Linked DNA regions of Homo sapiens. The protein of the gene in region 2 purifies or fractionates together with the protein of the main gene of each other region. This does not show direct contact. Each region holds a gene or a part of one and is shown on either strand. Other genes may lie near its edges. The genes, in order: TKT and ATG2B.

Region 1 (10,216 bases), on a different chromosome or scaffold from region 2:
CTGCCCGCCCCTATCAGGCTCAGCTGCCACAGCCTTTGCCCAAGTGGGTAGGGACGTGAGGGGTCACCAGCACGCCCTCCTTGCAGCTGCATCCCGGCTCCTGGCTGTGTGGATTGTAGCCTCAGCATCCCCTTTACCAGCAGGGGTGGGAGGGGCTTTCCCTGGTGCCAGGAAAGTTTGTCCTAGGCTGCTGGGGGGCCATGCTGCCCTCCTGCTCAGCTGTCTATGCCATGAGGCACCGCCAGGCCTTGCTAGCTGACAGGTCAGGCCACACCAGCCTCCAGTCAGGCCTCAGGCACTGTCTTGGCTTCCCGTATTTCCTGAGCAGGGGCTGAGGGAGAAATGACAAGTTCGTCAGGCTCCCATGAGGACCCAGTGATGGCCTCCAGCACACTCCGCACCAAGCACGCCCTACACTAAGCACATTATACTCTAAGTCTTCTCGCCAAAAAGGAGGCAGAGTTTTTCAGCTCTGGGATTCCTGAATGTCCCAGCTTCCTGTAGCCTTGATGTCCCCGGACTGGGTCTGGGTGACTGGGTCAGGGTTCTTGACTCTCCTCCCTCATCCTGCCCAGGCCCCGGCGCCTGCTGCCCAGGCTCTCGTCTTCTTCTTCACAAGCTGTGTGGGCCTGGGAGAGGCCAGGCAGGCTGGAGGTGAGGGCAGCTGCCCCTCCTGTCCCTCTACTTTGGGTTAGCCAGGCCTCCCAGGTCCTTGGGGCATGGCTAGCCAGTGTAGATGGGCTCACCAGGCTGCTGGCTGGGCCTGTGCCTATGGCTCAGGTGTCCTTGTCCCAGTATTTGCCTCTAGATTCTCTGCAGGGGCCTGTGGGCTCTGGAGACGCACAGGACCTGAGCCCCAGGCTGTTCCCATCATCCTATGGGACCAGGGCCCTCCTGGGAGCCTACTGCATGATTCCTCTTTTGAGGGCCCTAGGGGCAGTAGGGTACAGAAGGTGGGATCTCTAGACTCACAGAGACCCAGGTTCCAATCCCAGGTCTGCCCTCAACACACTGGTGAACAGGCATCAGCCCAGGGCACCCCCCTGGGACCAAACCACATCACCCCATGCCTGGTCCCTCTGGAATTGGTGTTGAGGCAAACACAGGCACAGCCTCTGGCACTGCTAGACCTGGCTGGGTAGCTAAGTGGGGGGCAATTGCCTGACCTTGGCTTTGACAGGTTTATTCTCTCCAGACGGTCAGGAGGACAGGTGGACGTGTCCACAAATGTGTCTCATCCTCGCAACAGCTCTGAGGATTTCCTGGGGACTCCACCAGTGGCCGGGGCACCCAGCCCTCCTCCCCCAGCACTAGTTTGTTCTTGGCCAGTATAAGGTTTTGCACAGTTGACCTTATAAGCAGGGCTGACCCCAGCTGAGCCCGAGCAGCAGGGGGAGAAATCCACTGTGGTCAGCAGTGTGAGGGCAGTCACCTAGGAACAGCAGAGCAGGTCGGGGCTGGAGCTTGGGACTGCAGAATTCTGTGTGACATCAGAAGCTCCTGGGCCAGTTGTCACATGGAGTCCCAGGCCCCATTGGCAAGACCCAGAAATCTGCATTTTAACAAGTTGAGGGGGACAGTTCCACACTTGGGATTGAGGACCTCTCATGCCATCCTGAGGGTCCCTTTTCCCCCAGGACGAAGGCTGCCCTGTCTCTGCTTCTCTGAGATGCCTAGTTAAAAGGATATGACAAGGACGAGGGACAACAAGCAAGTGAACCTCCCTATCCCAGGAGACCTGACTGCAAGGCTGTGGGGACTTGGGGGAGGTGGGGCGGCCCTGAGAGTGCCTGGTCAGCTTCCAGACTGAGGCAGTTCCCCAGCCCGCTCAGGGCCAGGTGGACTGAGGTCACAATGAGGGATGTAGGTCTCAGCCTCTCAGCTAGAAGGCAGGTTGCAGTCAAATGTCACCTGGTGATGAATGGGAGGCAGCGATAGTTCTGGAGGTTGAGGGCAGTTGCAGGTGATTCCAAGGGGACTTGGGACACCCAGGTCCTGGCCCAGGACCAAGGACACCAGCCTCCCTAGCGCACCCTCCACGCTTCTTCCCCAGAACCTGCACTGGCTGCAAACACATCAAAAAAGAAAACATTTCAGGGCCAATTCATTTTTCTCAAAACATATATTTACCCCTCCTCTCAGTACATCTTTGAGCACCTTTCCCAGAATCTCAGGAATGTATAGACCCCCGCCCCACACTTCATACCCGCCCTAGGCCTTGGTGATGAGGCCCCTCACAGCTTGTGCAATGGCATCCCTGTCGATACCAAACATCTTCAGCAGCTCAGCCGGCTTCCCACTTCTTGGTACCCGGTTAACTGCCAGGTGGGTGACAGTGATGCCAGGCTCGCCCACTACTGCACTGGACACAGCCTCACCAATGCCACCTAGAAATGAAAGGAGGGGAGTCAGAAGACGAGGCCTCAGGGTGAGCAGTGGTGGGCCCAGCCCTCTGTCAGCCTTAGTCAAGGATGGAGGAGGCTGCATATGCACTGCCTTTCTCCACCTGTAGCCATGAGCCCATCACATAACTCATTGATTTTTTTTATTTTAAAGAGACAGACAGGTATCACCATGTTGCCCAGGCTGGTCTCCCAACTCCTGAGCTCAAGAAATCCGCTGTCCTCAGCCTCCCAAAGTGCTGGGATTGCAGGTGTGAGCCACCATGCACGGCCCAGAACTATTTTTATAAGCCCAAATATGGCCTCTAAATGTTTGTTTCAAACACCATTGTTGGTGACCAGCCAGCCACTGTCCATAGTCCAATTATCTACATTTGACCCCAGAGTCAAAGCCCATCTCTCCCACTGGGGCCTCCTACTTAGAGAGGCTGGTGTGTACTTAGGGAGCCTGCTGTGTGAAGGACTCACAAATACCAGAAATTCTGCATTGCTTCCCAAGCTGCACCATAGCTTCCACCCTACACTACCTCAGGGACGCCACCATCCACCATTTAGCAGCGAGGTTGGAATCCTCACCAGCTTCCTGGGCAGCAGGAGCTCCACAGAGCTCATCAGCAGCTGTGAGTTAGCTAGGTCCCCAGGCCAAGCCTGAGGCCTTTTAAGAGACCACGTCCCAGCTGCTCTGAGGGACAGCTCTGGGTGTTCTGGGCCACAGCTGCCCTCCTGGGGCTCAGATAGAAGAGGCACGTCCAACGCTCGGCTCTCTGGCCCTGTCCCTTGCCCAGCCTGCCTGCCCCAGGCCTCCTTACCTTCATAATAATGGTCCTCCACGGTGAGGATCCTGCCCTTGGTGGCACGAGCGCTGTCGAGAATGAGTTTTCTGTCCAGGGGCTTGATGGTGAAGGGGTCCAGCACGCGGATGTTGATCTTTTCTGTGAGGGAGAGCACACGGCGTGGCTGAGGGGAGGGCTGGGCACCACTATCTGCCCTGGTGGGGGCCTGGTGGGACATCCTGAGGGCTGCGTGTAGCTAAGAGCTCAGCCTGCGGGCCTGTCCCTGTCCCAGGGAGAACCACTTGCCACCTCGTTCCCATGGCTGAGCTCATGCTTGCCAACCCCTTGCACTGGGGCATCTGGTCCAGCTGTGTTGCCCGCAGTATCCAAGAACCCAGAGCGGAGCGTGCAGGCCCTGAGCGCCTTCCCTCATCCTCCCACAACCTTGAAGACAAAGGGAATGCGAGAGAAAACACCCCAGGTGTCTGGCCTGATGGAAGGTGAGGCTTGATGTGGTGACGTTGGGGAGCTGCAGCCCGCAGAGTGATCAGAGGCCCACGTGCGGCCCCAGCAGCAGAGGCACCTTCTCAGAAGGACAAACCCACGCTTGCCAGGCCCTGCTTAAAGCTCACCCCCCTGGGTCTCCCCCTGCCTGGGGATGGACTCCTCTGGCTCCTCCAGCCCCATCTTGCTCCTGCCTGACCCTCCTCCGGCCTCCCTTCACTCTCCTCTCTGCTAATCAATTCCTACCCACTCTGAAGCCACTTTCTGGAAGATGCCACACCTGCCCCCTCTTTCGTGCTAAAACATGACATCTGCTGTGTGATTCTATTGCAGGAGAGGCCAATGCCTGTCTCCCCTACAAACCACTAGCCAACACTGTGAGCTCGCAGTAATAATAATAGAATACCAAGTCACATGCATGTAACCCTCAGGAGAGCTCTGAGGGCAAGGGGCTAGTATCTCCATTTTACAGATAGGAAAACAGGCATGGTGACAGTGAATAACTTACTTCCTTAACTAGTGCCTGGCTGAGTGATTCCAGCCCAGCTGGCAGGCTCCAGGCCACTGATCTGGCCACCATGCTGGGGGGGTCTCGACTTTAGAGTCATAGGGTAGGGACTGTGGGCACTGCAGCCCCAGGACTTAGCAACATGCCAGACAGAACAAGTGCTCAAAGGATGGCTATAATTGCTATCATTATTTAATGAAATGAAATGCTTTCTCTCTAGCTGTGAGCTCTTCAAGAAAGAACAGAAAGAACGAAAGAAAGAACCCCAAGACCTAGCATGCAGTGGCCGCTCAGTTGATGACTTTGGAGGCCCCTTCTCCTCACCTTTCTTCAGCAGTTCGGCAGCGGCCAAGGCCTCGTGCAGGGTCACCCCAGCCCCGATAACGGTCACCTGGTCATCCTTGCTCTTCAGGACCACCTGGGGGTGACACAGAGGGTGAGTAAGGCTCAGGGCCCTGGGGCAGGGTGTGCCCTGACTGCTGGGAGTCACAGCAGGGAGGGTCCAGGCAGCTCTGTGGGCTCCTGGGGCATGCGAGGCACTGACCTTGGCTTGTCCGACCTGGAAGTCCTCATTGTTGTTATAGATGATGGCATTTTCTGGGCGGCTGGTCCGGATGAAGCAGATACCCTGAGACCGAAACAGATAAACTGAGGATACAGGATGTGGCACACCCAACCTCAGAGACGAGGTCTTTCTAGAGAGGCCATCCCTTCCCATGGGAGCGTTAGTTACTGCATCCTGGCTACTCCAGCAGGGAAAAGGGCCTTGCTTGCCCTCTGCCGCCCGCACCCCACTTGAACACTCTGAGAACTGCCCACCACCTTGCAGCCTCAGACCGAAGGCAACTTTCCACCAGGTAGACTGGCTGCAGGTGGGCTACTCCCACAGACTGCACCAGGCAGAGGGGCAGGAACCACGCGCACTGGGTCTGTGGCATGCAGCTCCGGGCCTGGACCACAGGGCTCAGCTCATCCTTGCCTGTCTTGGAGAACCCAACTCAGGAGGGTGGAGAGGTGTCAACCGCTGGACCGGCCAGGGCTGCCAGGATTCTCAGCAGAGACAGACTGGCAATCAGTTGACAATGTCTGCCACGTGGCAGTAAGTGGGGTGTGTATTTCGTTTTTTCTTGTCTAACTTCCACAAGCTACACGAACACCAGGGGCAAGGTCAGGAAACACCCCCTGGGGCAGCAAGTGACCAGCTCTGGCCTCCTCTTCTGTTTCCCTTGGGAAGTGATGGCTGCCAGCAGGAGAAAGAACAGCCATGCAACCTACCTTTGTATTGGCGGCTAGTTCCACTGCCTTCTCTGTAGCAACGCCATCACTTGGGTAAAAGACAGTTGATGTGGGGACTGACCGAAACATAGCCAGATCTTCTAGGGCCATCTGGGAGGGCCCGTCTTCCCCTGGGGTGTGGGGGAAAGGATATGCAGAAATAAGACCCCTACCCCCCCATCCATGGGCTGGAATCCTGGCCCATCCCCCTCCCATACCTCCTGGTGCAAAAGTCAAGGGAGCTCCAGGTGTAAACACCCTGGCTAAACTCACCGATGGAAACGCCGCAGTGGGAGCCGCAGAGGTTGATGTTGCTCTCGGAGATGGCGGCCATGCGAATCTGGTCAAAGGCCCGCGTGAAGAAGGCTGCAAAAGTGCTGCAGAAGGGCACCGTCCTGTTGCGGGTGGCACAGCCCACCGCGATGCTCACCTGGGGGCAGGTGGGACAGGGTCAGCCCAAAGGGGCAGGCAGAGGGTGGTCGGGGAGCCTAGGACCCCTTTTGTGGAGAAAGCCACAATTTGTATATAGATTGTCCATCCTTTCTGGGCTTCTGAATATGTCCCCCACCACCTTCTTCTGCAGAGACCGGTCCTCCCAACCCCTCCCTGGGGTCCGAGGGCAGCAGCCTCATGCCTGCTGAGGCTCCAGGCCCCAAATCACTCATCCAGAAGCAGCACTGAGTACAGTCATCAGTTCCAAACCAGCTGCCCTTCAAGGCTCCAAAATCTGCCAGCCAACACAAGGCCTCTTTCCCTAGTACCTGGGACCTCCCCAGCCCCACGCCCTGCAGAGCAGTCTCTGGAAACCACAGAGAGAATTTCAGGTCCAGTTGGAAGAACTCTGGAGATCTGAGTGCCCTCCAGAGAGAGGAAGCTCCCTGTCCCTAGGGGCCTGCAAGCCAGGCTGGGCTCCTGGACCACCAGGAGGGGATATTTTGAAAACATGGACAAAACATTGTTCCTTACTTCACAACCTCAGTTCCTGACAAGGGTCTGCTTCCCCAAATGGGTACATGTCAGGGGCCCAGAGTTCCCTCATCTCTGCATCCCTCAGGGTGGCAGGGCCCAGAGCCGTGTGCATTACAGGTGCTCTACAGACTCGGGCTGCTAAACCCATCACGGCCCCACCTACTGGCCAGGCCTGTCCTCCACCTGGAAGAGACCCCATTCACCACCAGGCCTGGCCTGTACGCAGCTCCTCCTGAGAGCACCTGCAGTCCCATTCGGCTCCCCCATGTGCACACCTGTCCAGGACATTTGCACCTGGGCAGAACCTCCCAAACTGTGGCTGTTCAAGGTCAGGGGTTAACGCTGGGTCCTGGCTTTTCTTATAGTCTCCCTGGGCTGGCCTACAGCAGGCACCTGGCTCTGCCAACATGGCTGCCCCGCACCCCTCAGACCACAGCCCTCAGCCTTGGGTGGACCTGTCCCTGCCGGCCCCAGCACCTACCATGTTCTGCTCAGCAATGTAGCACTCGATGAAGCGGTCCGGGTGCTCCTTTTTGAAGATCTCCGAGAAGGTGGAATTTTTGGTGTCCCCATCCAGGGCGATGATGCGGTCACTGGCATGGCCCAGCTTGGCCAGTGCCTGCCCGTAGGCCTTGCGGGTGGCTATCTGTGAGGAAGAGAGTGGGAAGGCTCTGGACCCCTCTGAGGGTGAGTGCACACCTGCAGCCTGGAGCCCTGCTTTCAGAGAAGGATTAAAACGGGGCCAAAAATGGAAGCCCTGGAGCACAAGGTCCTGCAGAGGCTTTTAACTGCTGAAAGGTTGCCAACGACTACGGTCAATGTCTTGGGAGCCCCTGGAGCCCCGGCCCCTTCTGGCTGTGAAAGGTATAAGCTACAGAAGACACCCACCAGCCCCAACTTCCCGCCTGCTGCACCAGGTCCATGAACCTATTCCACTTTGCATGGGAACACAGAAGGCTTGGGAGTCAAGGCCAGGCACAGGCTGCATGGATGGGTTCCCTTGGGACAGAAACCTGGAGTGGGACAGCTCTGCCTAGCCTTTCCCAGGTCAGGTGGGGGTCCTGAGCTCAGGCCAAGGGTCCCTCGTGGACCAGCGATGCAAGAACTTGGGAGTGAGTCCTTGGCTTTGATCTCAGTTCTGTCAGTAGCTTGCTAAGCTTGCTAAGTGGGCAATTCCCTTGCCCGGTCTGAGCCTCTGCAGGTCAACTCCAGAGATGTCTGTCATTCTGAGGGAAGTGACAGGAACAACACCTCAGGGATCACTCCTCGCCCTAAATGAATCGCTCTCCTCCCTTTCCCAGCCCTCCAGAGGGTGTATCTGGGCCACAGACTTGGGAAACCTGAGAACTATGGGTTCAGAGAAACAGGCCCCACTTTGTACCTTGTCCCCAACTTTGTAGCTGGGCAGGCTGGGCATGCGGATGTTGGCAATGTCCACTGAGGGTGCGTCCTCCTGTGGAGGGGTTGCCAGGATCTTCTTTTTGCTCTGGATCTGGCTGTAGATCTCCTGGATGATCTGCTCAGCCATGTTTTTGGGGAGGGGCTTCCCATGCCAAGACTCCTTATCTTCTACCCCTGCAGACCCAACACGGGAGGACAGAGGAATGGGTAAGACAGAAGCTCCCAGAGGGCCAGGAGGCTGCTCCAGGAGACTGGCCCTCTACCTGCCGAGGGCAAGGGAGGAATGGCATCATCCCAGACAGGCAGAGCCCAGCCAGGCACGGGGGCCAGGAAAGGAGGGTCGCAGTGAATAGGATGGACTCCTACGTGCCCACCACTCACTGTCTACTGCCTGGTCCTTTGGGAGCTCACAGCTGAGTGGGAAAGGAGGGGCCAGACGTGGGCAGGTGTGTGTTTCTGGGCCCACTGCCCCATCCCTTCACCAATGTGTCCATTCTCTTCCTCCCCACAACCCCGCCTGCAGGGTCACACACAGGTAGAGGTGTCTGCTGCAGAAATACTCAGTTTGTCGACTGGGTTGGAAGGGACCCTGGCCATCAGAAGGGGAACCCAAGGCCCAGAACAGGGCTTCCAGGGTCACCCAATGCATCTGTGAGCAGCAGAGGAGTCTATAAGCACCTAGGCATGCCCACCCCATGGCACCTTGTTGTGTGCGGCCAGGAAGGCTGAATATCCCTCTCCCTGGAGGTCACCTCAGTAGTCACTAGAGTCTGGCCAGAGCCAAGAACAGACTGAACTCCCAGGTAGCACCCAGCAGCCCGAAAGACTAGCAGGAGCCCCCAAGAAGCTGCAAGTGGTCCAGATCCTGCCCATTTTTAACACCAGAGGGCAGTGCCAGGCAGCAGCACCAAAGCCATGACAATATCCCAGAGCCCTTTCCTCGACATCCACCCCCTCCCAGACACCTCCCAGCACTGCCAAACCCCCACTCAGAACATCCTCATATACCTGAGTCTACATGGGCAGAACAAGCCACAACCCCTGAGAGCAGGCAGGTGGGCAGCCAGGGGCATTTGGCAGGGAAGCCGACCCAGGCCCTGGGATCAGCCCCCCTCGTGCCATAGACTTCCTCTGTCCCCGGGCAAGTCCCTGACCACTTGTAGTCTCATTTTCCCATCTTTAAAATGGGTGAGGCCATCCCAGGCCTAGGAATCTGAAGCCCACACCTGGGTGCCAGGGAGTGACTTACGCCTGCCTCATTCTCCGGCCTGGGGCAGAACCCAGGTTCCAAACCCCCCAAGGCTCTTGGCCCACACAGGCCTTGCTCAGCATCTGCCATTGCTTGAGGAGTACCCCACTCACCTCCTGGAGGGAACAGTTCTCTCCGGGCCCTGCCTGGCTCTGTGTCGGCCCTTCAGCTGGAGCAGGTGGCCGGAGCTGGCAGAGCACACACAGCTGCAGCTCTGAAAGGCACCAGCCAGGGTGGGGCACGGGGGCTGCCTCACTCCACGACCTTCCTCTCACCCACAGACCCTCCAAGTCCCTCCTCTCCTCCTGCCTGTACATGCCCCCACCGGCAGAGGCCAGACGGATCTGAGTTTAAATCCTGGCTCAGCCACAGGGGTCACTGAGTCACAGCATCTCCCGCTCCCCTTCCCTGGAGCCTGGTGAGCTCAGTGAGCAGCAAGGGCTGTTTCCCTGGATGTGCGGGTCAGAGCTACGTAGCCACAGTGTCTGGGCGAGGGGTGAAGGTGGGGAGGGCGGCTTGTGCATACTGACCCGTGATCCCTCGGCCCTTGAAGGTCTTGGCAATGATGGCTGTTGGCTGGTGCTTGGCCTGGCCAAAGGCCTTGCACAGCTCCTCCACGCTGTGTCCATCCACGATGATGGCATGCCAACTGGGGACAGGGGGCAGAGAGTAAGGGGCAATTCCCAGGGGCCACAACACCGAGGAGCCTTCCAGGGAAAGGTCTGCCTTGGCAGCTGGGGTCTGCCCAGGCTCCACCCCACAACTGCGGCCTCAGCTGGAGTAGTAGAAAGCTTGCAACATTCCTGTTTCCAGTTTGGGTTTTTTAAATCCTTTTCTTTTTCACATTATTTTACTTCCTTTTGTTTGCCTCTGAACAGGTTTTCCTCCTCCTCTTAAGTAATCCAGAGCTCAGTTCCTTTATTGTCTCTTTCATTCCTGATCTGCTCATTTCCTACTGAAAGCTGTTCTGGGGTCAGCGCACTGGGTTTGGAATCTGTCTGCTATTAGATTCTTGATGAATTTTTTGGCCCAATTCTTATTTGGGGAACACATTTGATCACTCCACAGATGCTGGATGTGGTGCTGGAAATGTTTTTGAAATGAACCATGGAGTCAAATATACAGGAAGGAGCTG
Region 2 (10,216 bases):
TAATAAATTACTTGTCTACCTAAGAAACCTCATGTTATATCAACCTCATATTATATCAGTTGTTCAAAGGGAAAAGGGAGAAGCTGATTAGGAAACAGTTTCAAAACTCTAACAACAAAGTTATGTTTTCATCTAGTAATTTCAATAATAAAGGGCTGGTGCTGTTTCTGTTTTATAACCACAAAACCTAAAGATCACTGAGTTAATGCAGCCTATGACTACAAAAACTAATGAGCTTTTTACTCCAGAGTAATCCCTTTCCTAAGCTTCTACAGAACATCTCTAGCACAGACTTTTCATTCTCCTTTGATTACCACATCCACCCATTGTTATAAGGAGGCATGGAACCCTCAAAGAGAATAGCTGTGCTGCAACTGCAACTCTTATTCCCTAGGTAGTGGTGTTATTTGGTTTGTAAATGATCACAGGCTTTTTTCCTAATTGATACATATCCTAATATAAATTGTGCTTCTGAATTATTTAACCGAAGTAGATCCAGTCCTTATGAAACTTGTGCTCTAAACTCATGCTTATTACCAGGTGTGTATGAGCAACATCTGTCCTAAGAATCTAATCGGTCTAATAGACAGTGGAGAGGAGGAGTAAAGCAAGGCAGGCAGAAAAATAGCACAACAAGGTTTGAGGGTGACACATCTCACACATTCATGTGAACACCCAATCATCACGCTTATGAACCACAAAAGAATCAAGGATGGACATGTTTAGCTTATATTTAATAGACAAAATGTTGGTTTAAAAGAATATTTTATTTTTAAAAGGAAAATCCTATTAAACCTATGCATTTGCTTACTCACCGTGGCCAGTCAAAGTCATCTGACGATGTTGTATCTCCATCTACTCCACTAGACACATGGAAAAACTTAATAGATGGATCTCCTTTCTCTTCCTGGAACGATCCTAAAAAAAAAGACTGATTTACTGAAATGTGCTTCTTCTCAAGTACTAAAAGAAGAGATGGAGGAGCAAAGATCCTCTCAATCAGGAACATAATGCAACCTTAAGTTCTACAGCATTTTTCAGTTGTTCTGGTTTCATGTGCACGTGTGGTAGACAGAATGAGCCAATAAATTAAAGATTCTGTTTTGTGTTCAAACTCAAATTCTTAAGTACCAAGGTACACTGCATAAAGTACATAATGACATAGTAAATAGAGCAAGCACTTACCACTTACTAAGTGCTATTAGTGATTATTTCTTCATAAAGTCTATATAATCTACCACTAGAAAAATAACTACATTTCTTAAATATGTATTTTGTACCAAACACTGTAAGAAACACCTCTGTTCAAAATAATTCTACACGGGCTGGGCGCGGTGACTCACACCTGTAATCCCAGCATTTGGGAGGCTGAGGCAGGCGGATCACCTGAGGTCAGGAGTTAAGAGACCAGCCTCTCCAACATGGAAAAAACCCGTCTCTACTAAAAAATACAAAAATTAGCTGGGTGTGGTGACATCCAACTGAGGCACGAGAATCGCTTGAAGCCAGGAGATGAAGATTGCAGTGAGCCAAGATCATGCCACTGCACTCCAGCCTGGGCAACAAAGCAAGACTCTGTCTGAAAAACAAAAACAACAACAACAAAAATTCTATACGTGTTTTTTCAATCCATTTTACAAATGAAAAATGGCTTTCCTCCAGAATAATGAGTTTCTCACCACTGGAGATAAGGGATGATCTCACAACACCTGAAGGCCCTTTCATGAAGTCATAATTGACAACAATCAATTTTAAATACCTCTTAAGATACGTAAAACCGAGAGAGAAAAGAAGGGGAACTTTTGCAAACTATTCTCATGAGGGGTGGGAGTGTGGTTGCGGAGAGAGGGTGTCGTGGCAGAGGCAGGTGGTCTAGGAACCACAGGATAAAAGGTTTTCCAGGTCTTCATAGACTTGGTTCACTTTAAAGTTTTTATAAATTCCCTTCATTAACTGACAAAAACAAAGTAATGCAGAAAAAATCAAAACGAGTTTTACAAATAAAAGTCACTAGCGATTAGTTAGTGTAATGGTTGAAAGCTCAAGCTCCACTGTCAGACTTGGGTTCAAATCTTGATTCTGCCATTGACTACAACATGATCTTGGTAGATACTTCCTTCTAGGTCCACAGATGGTCTCATCTATTAAATTATAAAAATAACTGGAAAAATAAACATATGGTGATTATGATGACTAAAAAAACAAGAAAATGTGTATCAAGTGCTTAGCATAATATTTAACATACAGTGGCACTTAACAAGTTCTATTATCAGTCCTACAATAAATAAACGAGAGGTGGTAATAAAAATGTAGGCTAAAGTACTACACTCTCCTGCAGTAAACAGGAATTTTAACAAAGTGAATGAATCATCATCCTTAGTTTTTAAAAAATTACCTATATCACATATTTGCATACAATACTAGAAAGACATTGTTGCTGTTGATTTTAACATAATGTTCTTTAATTGTACTATATTGCAGGGCTGTCAGATACTTTTGTGATGTTAAGTTTCAGTAGCAGTTGTTTGTTATCTAGGATGGTTCTTTTACAGGCACATTCAATCTTACCAATTAGTTCTCTAAAGGTAAGTTCCAATTTAATTTGTTCTGGGGTTGATCCTCCTATAAATTCAGTCTTAAATTCTAGATCTGTGAAGGCTAAATAAAGGATCTCCTTCTGAAGTGACTTCTTAAACCATGGTCCTCTTTCTTGATCAGATCGAAGATCAGGTATTGGGAAGCGAACAGAAAGGTTTAATGCTGGTGTGGCAACTTGTACTGATATCCGACAATTTGCAGGACTATGTGAATCATCTAGAAACACTTCAGTGAAAGCCTTGTGCTAAAACACAAAACATCAAAAATATGCCAAAATATTAAAGTAAATGAACATAAATTACACAGTATTCAACATTACAATATGTATAATCACTATCTCCCCATTTGGTATAATGCATTAAAAGTCAATTCAAATTAACCACTACCATATTAATTTAGTGTAAAAAAATTTTATAATGCAACAACTATTAGCAAAAGTGAAAACTATTGGCAAAAGTTAAACTCTGAAATAAAAAATTAAATTAAAAACTGAGCCAAAGTGAAGACAAAGGCACTATATATTAATATTTATCTTACTATAAATTTATAAAGAATACGGTGTAAATTAGCCTACCAACAAATTCAATACGGTTAAAAATCACTGTAGTGTCCAACATTCAGTTTGAAAGACTTTTCTACCAATATATGATTTTAAATACTCAATGTGAAATCAGATGAATTATGCCAAATACAATCGCTGACTCAACTTTGTACTTCTAAGATAAAACCCAGAGGCTGGCACATCACAGGTTCTAAATAAATATTCACTAAATGACGCACTCTGAGCTCCTATCCAATCCAAGGGTATGATCTCATCAAATGGTTCTATGAGACCAAGATATATGCACCATTTTACCCAAAGCCATCTTACAATAAAAGGGTCAAAGAACATCCCATTCAAATAGAAATCTATTTCTATTTTTTCTCTAAAATATATTGAAACTAAAAAAGCTTTATTCCACTCTACGTTGTAACACTCCTCAGTTTCTTCAATCAATTTCTAACCTCCATGATTTGAAAACTCCCTGCATATGCTAGACTTACAATTTTTGTGTTTGTTTTTTTCGAAACAGGTCTTGCTGTATCACCCAGGCTGGTCTCAAACTCCTGGGCTCAAGCAATCCTCCTGCTTCAGCCTCCTGAGTTGCTGGGACTATGGGTGCAAGCCACCACACCCATCCAGACTTGGATTTTTAACAAATCTATTCTAACTCTCCCCATTTGATTTGCTAATATTTAACCACCACTCTCAGGCAAAAATAACCCAACAGATTAAACCATCATCCAATTGCATATATAGTTACAGCTAATATACAGACTACCCCACAGAAACTAAAATAACTAGCAATTGATAACAATAACAAAGAATGCCCAGCCTGGGAAACATAGGGAGACAAAATATAAAAACTTAACCGGGTGTGGTGGCACATGCATGTAGCCCCAACTATTTGGGGGGCTGAGGTAGAAGGATCGCTTAAGCCAAGGGGGTCAAGACTGAAGTGAGCTGATACCGTATGACAGCACTGCGGTCTGGGCAACAGATGTCTGTCTCAATAATAATAATAATAATAATAATAATAATAATAAACAATGCTAATTTGATGTGAATACTCAATACTAAGAGAAAAGCAAAGAAGTAGAAAAATAAAATATCTTTTTCCTTTTCTTTTTAACTAAGGTTGTCTCCATCTGATCCTGGTCCTCTGGCCCCAAAATTCCTAACAGACTTCTTGCAAACTTGACTGATTTAATTTGCTTAGAAAAGACCCCAGGCACCAGATGCAAGTAAAAGTGATATAATGTGATGTTCAATAGATTATTTTCAAAAGTATATCCCATATTGTTTGGGCTTCATGTTTTAGGTAGTTCAAGTAACTTATCAAATGTATAAATAGATAAAATTTTATAAAGTCGTTATAATCACAGCTTATAAAAACTCTGATAGACATGAAAAGTAAAGGAAACCTAATTCCACTGTAATATAAACAATGCTACTGACTGGCATATTTCTCGCCATTCTTTTTCTATACATCAATTTTATTTACACAGGTGTGACAAGTTTATGTAAAGCAATATATTCTACTTTTTCATTTAATCCTTGATGAGCCTTCTTCATGTTGTTATACCATCTTCATAACCATCATTTTCTTTTTCTTTTTCTTGAGACAGAGTCTCGCTCTGTCACCCAAGCTGAAGTGCAGTGATGCGATCTAACTGCAACCTCCGCCTCCTGGGTTCAAGCTATTCTCATGCCTCAGCCTCCTGAGTAGCTGAGATTACAGGTGTGTGCCACCATGCCCAGTTAATTTTTGTATTTTTAGTAGAGACAGAGTTTCGCCATGTTGGCCAGGCTTGTCTCGAACTGGCCTCAAGTGATCCTCCCACCTCAGCCTCCTAAAGTGTTGGGATTACAGGTGTGAGCCGCCACGCCTGGCCATAACCATCATTTTAAATGACCACATAACATTTCATTCAGTGTGTCTCAAAAACTTATTTAGCTAGTCTACTATCAAGACATAAAAGATGTCTCCTTTTTTTATTATTACAAATAATGCTATTTTAATTATACTGTTTAATCTATTAAAAATACTTAAGTTCAGAAATTATCTCAATAACCCTATTAGCTAACCATAATTATGATTAGTATTTGCAGCTTTTGAATACTTACCAGACTAATATGTTTATTATATGAAGTATACATGTGGGATGCCATCATCTCTACTGTGGCAAGTTTCTGTGGTTGAAGCAAGGAATTTAACCTGTCCACAATACTGATATCCAGCTCACAACACACTGGATTTAATTTAATTTGCAATTCTGCCTTGTGAGGAACTGAACTAAGTCTTGCTTGATTACCCTTTTAAAAAAAAAAAAGAAAAGGCATTAATACAATCACTAAAAACTACTATATAATTGGGTTAAAACCTTATAATTGTGACAAAATATATATCAGATTAAAATTTACAGGTGGCAATTATAGAAAAAGATCTCTTACCTGGGGCCCTCTATTCTCAGAATGCTTATAATGAAGCTGAAGACACACAGGGGAATGGGAACCAGTTTCTTCTTTGGAATGGAACGTTAAAAGCTTAAAAGTAAAGATGAAGATAAATTAAATGTATTAATCACAAGAATTTACAGAGGTGCCCATACAATAATGAGAAAGGCTTTCTGAAGTCAGAAATCTGGTTTTAAGTTTCATTTTTGTCACTTACTAGCAATGTGAACCTTAGACAAGTTAGTTAACTCATGTGATATCTCATCTGTAAAATGTAGGCGAGGATTCAAATAAATTCATTTCCAAGAAAGTGTTTTTGAAATAAAACACTATAAAGGGTCAAAGTAACAGCAATGAACATAACTTTGACAGTTTTCTAAAGTTTCTTTAGGTCACACTTTTACATTAGGAAAAATATCAGAAAAATGGTGAATGAACACAAGACATTTAACTTGTCTTAAACAATGCTTAGCACACAGCAGGCATTCGATAATTATTTGTTCAATAATCAAATTCTTCTGAAATGAAGAGTGCTTTGAACATGAGTGAAATGAAGTCATTTCTCTCATAACCCACCTGTCACTCCTAAACAAGTCAACTCTAATTTAAAATTCTAACAGATCCTTATAACGATGTTGAGTGACATTCTTAAATATATTTCTATAGAACACAAGTGCAAAAAGAAAATGACAATATTCCTCCTATGGCTTTCTATACATTTTTAAAGAAAATCATTGCCTCATACAATCATTAAAAAGCAAGGTAGATTTAAAAAATAATCTTAAAGAAAAAGTATTCAATATTTACCTCTGTATAGTGAGGAGGAACAGAATGAAAATCAGTTGGAAATAGGCACTCCAAAAATTCCATTTGCCCAATGGACATATCAGTACTAAAATATCGGGAAGCTGATCTTTGTCTTTGTTCATAGGATACTTTAATGCCAGTACCTATAAATCTATTATAAAAAATGCACCATTTAAGATTATTAGTGTTAAAATGTAACAATTATCCACCTAGTCTGACAAGTTCAAGTTATCAATAATTAATACTCCTAAGGAAATTAACCAGAAAGATTGCTTCAAATTTCCCTTTCCTTAAGATAAAAAATCAGTTCTGTTGATGGGAAATTTTCCAGGATCTGTTTATTTCCCAACACTGCCCTTCGTCTTCCACATTTAAAAATTTACATTGCAAAGGCAAAATCTTTCAGATCTGTAAAATATATGAAATAGTCTCTTAAAATTATCTAAAAACATTATGCAATATTTCAAAAACTTTAGTCGGTGAAGCCCAAATGAGGTCTACCTATATTTTCTGCCGCTTTTGTTCTATTTTCCTACTGGCAGATGTTTGAAACTTTGTCAAAAATGGGAAAAAAAAAAAAAAAAGTCCAGGCACAGTGGCTCATGCCTGTAATCCCAGCACTTGAGGAGGACAAGGTGGGCGGATCACCTGAGGTCAGGACTTCGAGACCAGCCTGGCCAGTATGGTGAAACCCCATCTCTCTTAAAAATACAAGAAAAAAAAAGGGGGGTGGAAGAAAACAAAATGTTTTTACAGTTTGAGTATAAATACTATAATCCTAACCTGTAGAGTTTTTCTTGTATTAGGTGTAAAACTACTTTTCATATCAATTTTCATACTTTAAAAAAGTTAAAAAGATTAAATAAACGCCCAAAGTATTTTCTAAAAATACTAATATATGATATGTTTAAACCACCGTATAAGATGTCATTCAACAATTTATAGATCACTTTCACATTAAAATTGTAAAACAGAGTTTGCATGTTAACAATACTAAAGGCTGGGCGTGGTGGCTCACGCCTGTAATCCCAGCACTTTGGGAGACCGAGGCAGGTGGATCACTGGAGGGCAGGAGTTCGAGACCAGCCTGGCCAACATGGTGAAACCCCATCTCTACTAAAGATACAAAAACTAGCTGGGCATGGTGGCACATGCCTGTAATCTCAGCTACTCAGGAGGCTGAGGCTGCAGAATAGCTTGAACCTGAGAGGCAGAGGTTGCAGTGAGCCAAGATTGCGCCACTGCACTCCAGCCTGGACGATGGAGTGAGACTCTGTCTCAAAACAAAAAACAAAACAAAACAAAAAAACCAACTATATTACAAATTCAATTATCTCCTCATCTGTTAAGACTCAACCCATGAAAGGATCACTCACTGGCTATTTGGATAGCTTTGATTTTTCTTAAGCAGAAGTTGAAACGTAGCATCCAAGTTTCAGGATCAGCCTTGGTAATGTTTCCCACCCCATGGCCAGTGGCATATGGATCAGTTCCAATAGTATTATTTTATTTTTCATCACCACTGTCATCTCTGCTAATGCCAGTGACAATAAGAACTGTTTTCACGACTGCAGTGGTGTCAATAGGGATGAAGGCAAAATGTGGTTAAAGAAACTTGACAAGAGCTGGGCAGGGAACTAAAGAGATCACTTTGAAAACTCCTATTATCTAGATCTGTTATTCTGCATGCCAAATAACCTGAATGAAAGATTCTAAACACCTTTGCAGCACTGCAAGAAAACTTCACTCATTCCATTCATTTACAAATAAAATGTGAATTAGAAAAACAAATGCAGATAGGCAGATACAAAAGTCCACATGTGGTTCTTTTTCAAGGATCATTAGCATATGTGGAAGTTTAAAGGATCATTAATACATATGTGAGAGTTTACCTAAGGTGATCGTGTGAGCAAGCTTCTGCAAACACTGCTCGGAAAGACTTAAAATCTTCTGTTGAAAATCTTGCTGGATCAATCTTTTCTATACAAGTAAAGAAAGCTACTGCCATAGGTGTCAATGGATTAAGGTTCTGTGACGTTTCAGGTGGAGATAAAGGATCAATGTGAAGCACAGAGATTGAAAAAGTTCCCACAGCTAGTCTAAAAATAAGTTCAGGCCTTGATTCATCCACTGAAACAGATCTAGATGGGAGAGCTAAAATACAAGTATTAAAATTATATACATAAAATTTGACACATAAAACTATTAAAATTATAAAACATTTACTCATTTATTAGCTTTAAAAAACAGATGATCATACAACAGTTTGAATGATATTAAACAATTAATTTAAGTAAAATCAACTGCTATCTTGCTGCATCTTACATCCAAGATTTTTGTACTAAAGTACAAGAGTACGTGACAACAGTAAATGTACAAACCAAGCTTTTATATTAATAAAAACATACTGGAAAACTCAAGATTAACCAAAAACTGCTCACCAAATTTTCCTTTAAGCCTTGGGTCTATATCAATTAAATTTTGCAGAAAAGAAACCTGAGGTTCTCTTCCAAGGAAAATGTAAATAGTGAAACAAAAATCACATGATTGACTGAGGGTCCTGAACTGCAATAATAATATGAAACTTACAGTGTACTTTTAACTAAAAATATTTAAGTATTTAAATACACAAAGAATACAATAAATGAGCAACTATTCTAAAACACTTCACAGTGAATTGTTTAACAATGGTTCATTTTGCTTTCTGAACTTTGTAAATGGCCAAGACCAGAAAAAAAAAAAAAAGAAAGAAAAGCACCAGTAGAATGGCATTTTAAAAATTCCAGCGGAAACTAACAACAAATGTCTTATTTTTACTTACATGTCTTCTGTAAAGGTGTTGGGTGAACTAGGTTGGATGGAAATGTTGACCCTCTTACTGGCTGTTCTTTATGATGATCAAGGAACTCTCCCCAAGTGGGCTGAAGCTATAAAAGATTTTTTTTAAGCACATGAATGAAGTGTAGAATTTTAGAAGCAACTTTTCAGTCTAGAAGAAAAATTAAGTAATACTTTACCACAGTAGCACTTAATGGAGATCCTGCTGGGGTATTTGTATATGTACTAGTTAATGATAACTCAAGGTCCATGTTTGGGGGGTCCCCAAGGGGTGGAAGAGAAGAGAGACTATGAGACATGTCCATATCAGCCATGGAGAAGAATACTTCTTCTTCTAGAGAGAATTAAACTATGTCACTTGTATTATAATCCCACCAATTCAAGTCTTTTAAGTAAGTTAATATACGTTAATACAATCCTCTTCCTTCAGATTATATGAGATACAGCGATGCCCCAAATTTTATGTTACTTACAGTGGTGTAATTTATGAGTCCAAAATATTAATGGCATAGTAAAAACTCAATATAAATTAATAAAAAATGAAGCTACCCTACTGATGAACATGTTTTCTTTTGTTTTAAATATATAAATGTAGTATTACCTGGTATATTTTTAATGTGATATGCCAGTTTAGGAATTAAAATCAGATATTAAAATAGTATAAATATATTGCAACCTCTAGTTTCATCTGGATACAGTTATTTCTTTTATTCAGAGCCAAAAACATTATTTGGAATTCCATTTACATTTCAGTTCCTTCTTTCGGAATTGTTTTACTCTCATGCAAATGAAGTTTATTATGGCCAAAATTTTTTGAGTAGGGTTTGATTTCTTATTTTGTCCAACATTCCATACTTAAATTGATCCATATTATTTATGTTATTAGCATTTATACATTGTGAAACACCTATAAATGTAAAGTAAGCTGGGTAGAGATCATTATTTACATATAACTGATGGAAAGATCAATAAAGG

The links.
Region 1: the proteins of ATG2B (region 2) and TKT purify together in Homo sapiens (affinity purification with mass spectrometry; 2 studies listed by BioGRID and IntAct, with this or other methods). This does not show direct contact.

Annotation. Positions count from the first base shown.
Region 1 is NC_000003.12:53,223,545-53,233,760, forward strand, and holds the end of TKT (transketolase), read right to left. Parts: intron 9,731-10,216; coding exon 9,612-9,730; intron 8,007-9,611; coding exon 7,813-8,006; intron 7,078-7,812; coding exon 6,913-7,077; intron 5,893-6,912; coding exon 5,736-5,892; intron 5,594-5,735; coding exon 5,463-5,593; intron 4,816-5,462; coding exon 4,732-4,815; intron 4,606-4,731; coding exon 4,512-4,605; intron 3,335-4,511; coding exon 3,212-3,334; intron 2,388-3,211; coding exon 2,212-2,387; 3' UTR 1,168-2,211; downstream 1-1,167. UniProt on the Homo sapiens protein: Catalyzes the transfer of a two-carbon ketol group from a ketose donor to an aldose acceptor, via a covalent intermediate with the cofactor thiamine pyrophosphate.
Region 2 is NC_000014.9:96,323,081-96,333,296, forward strand, and holds part of ATG2B (autophagy-related protein 2 homolog B), read right to left. Parts: intron 9,576-10,216; coding exon 9,421-9,575; intron 9,331-9,420; coding exon 9,225-9,330; intron 8,558-9,224; coding exon 8,296-8,557; intron 6,555-8,295; coding exon 6,404-6,554; intron 5,687-6,403; coding exon 5,594-5,686; intron 5,456-5,593; coding exon 5,267-5,455; intron 2,843-5,266; coding exon 2,569-2,842; intron 919-2,568; coding exon 816-918; intron 708-815; exon of another isoform or gene 611-707; intron 1-610. UniProt on the Homo sapiens protein: Lipid transfer protein required for both autophagosome formation and regulation of lipid droplet morphology and dispersion.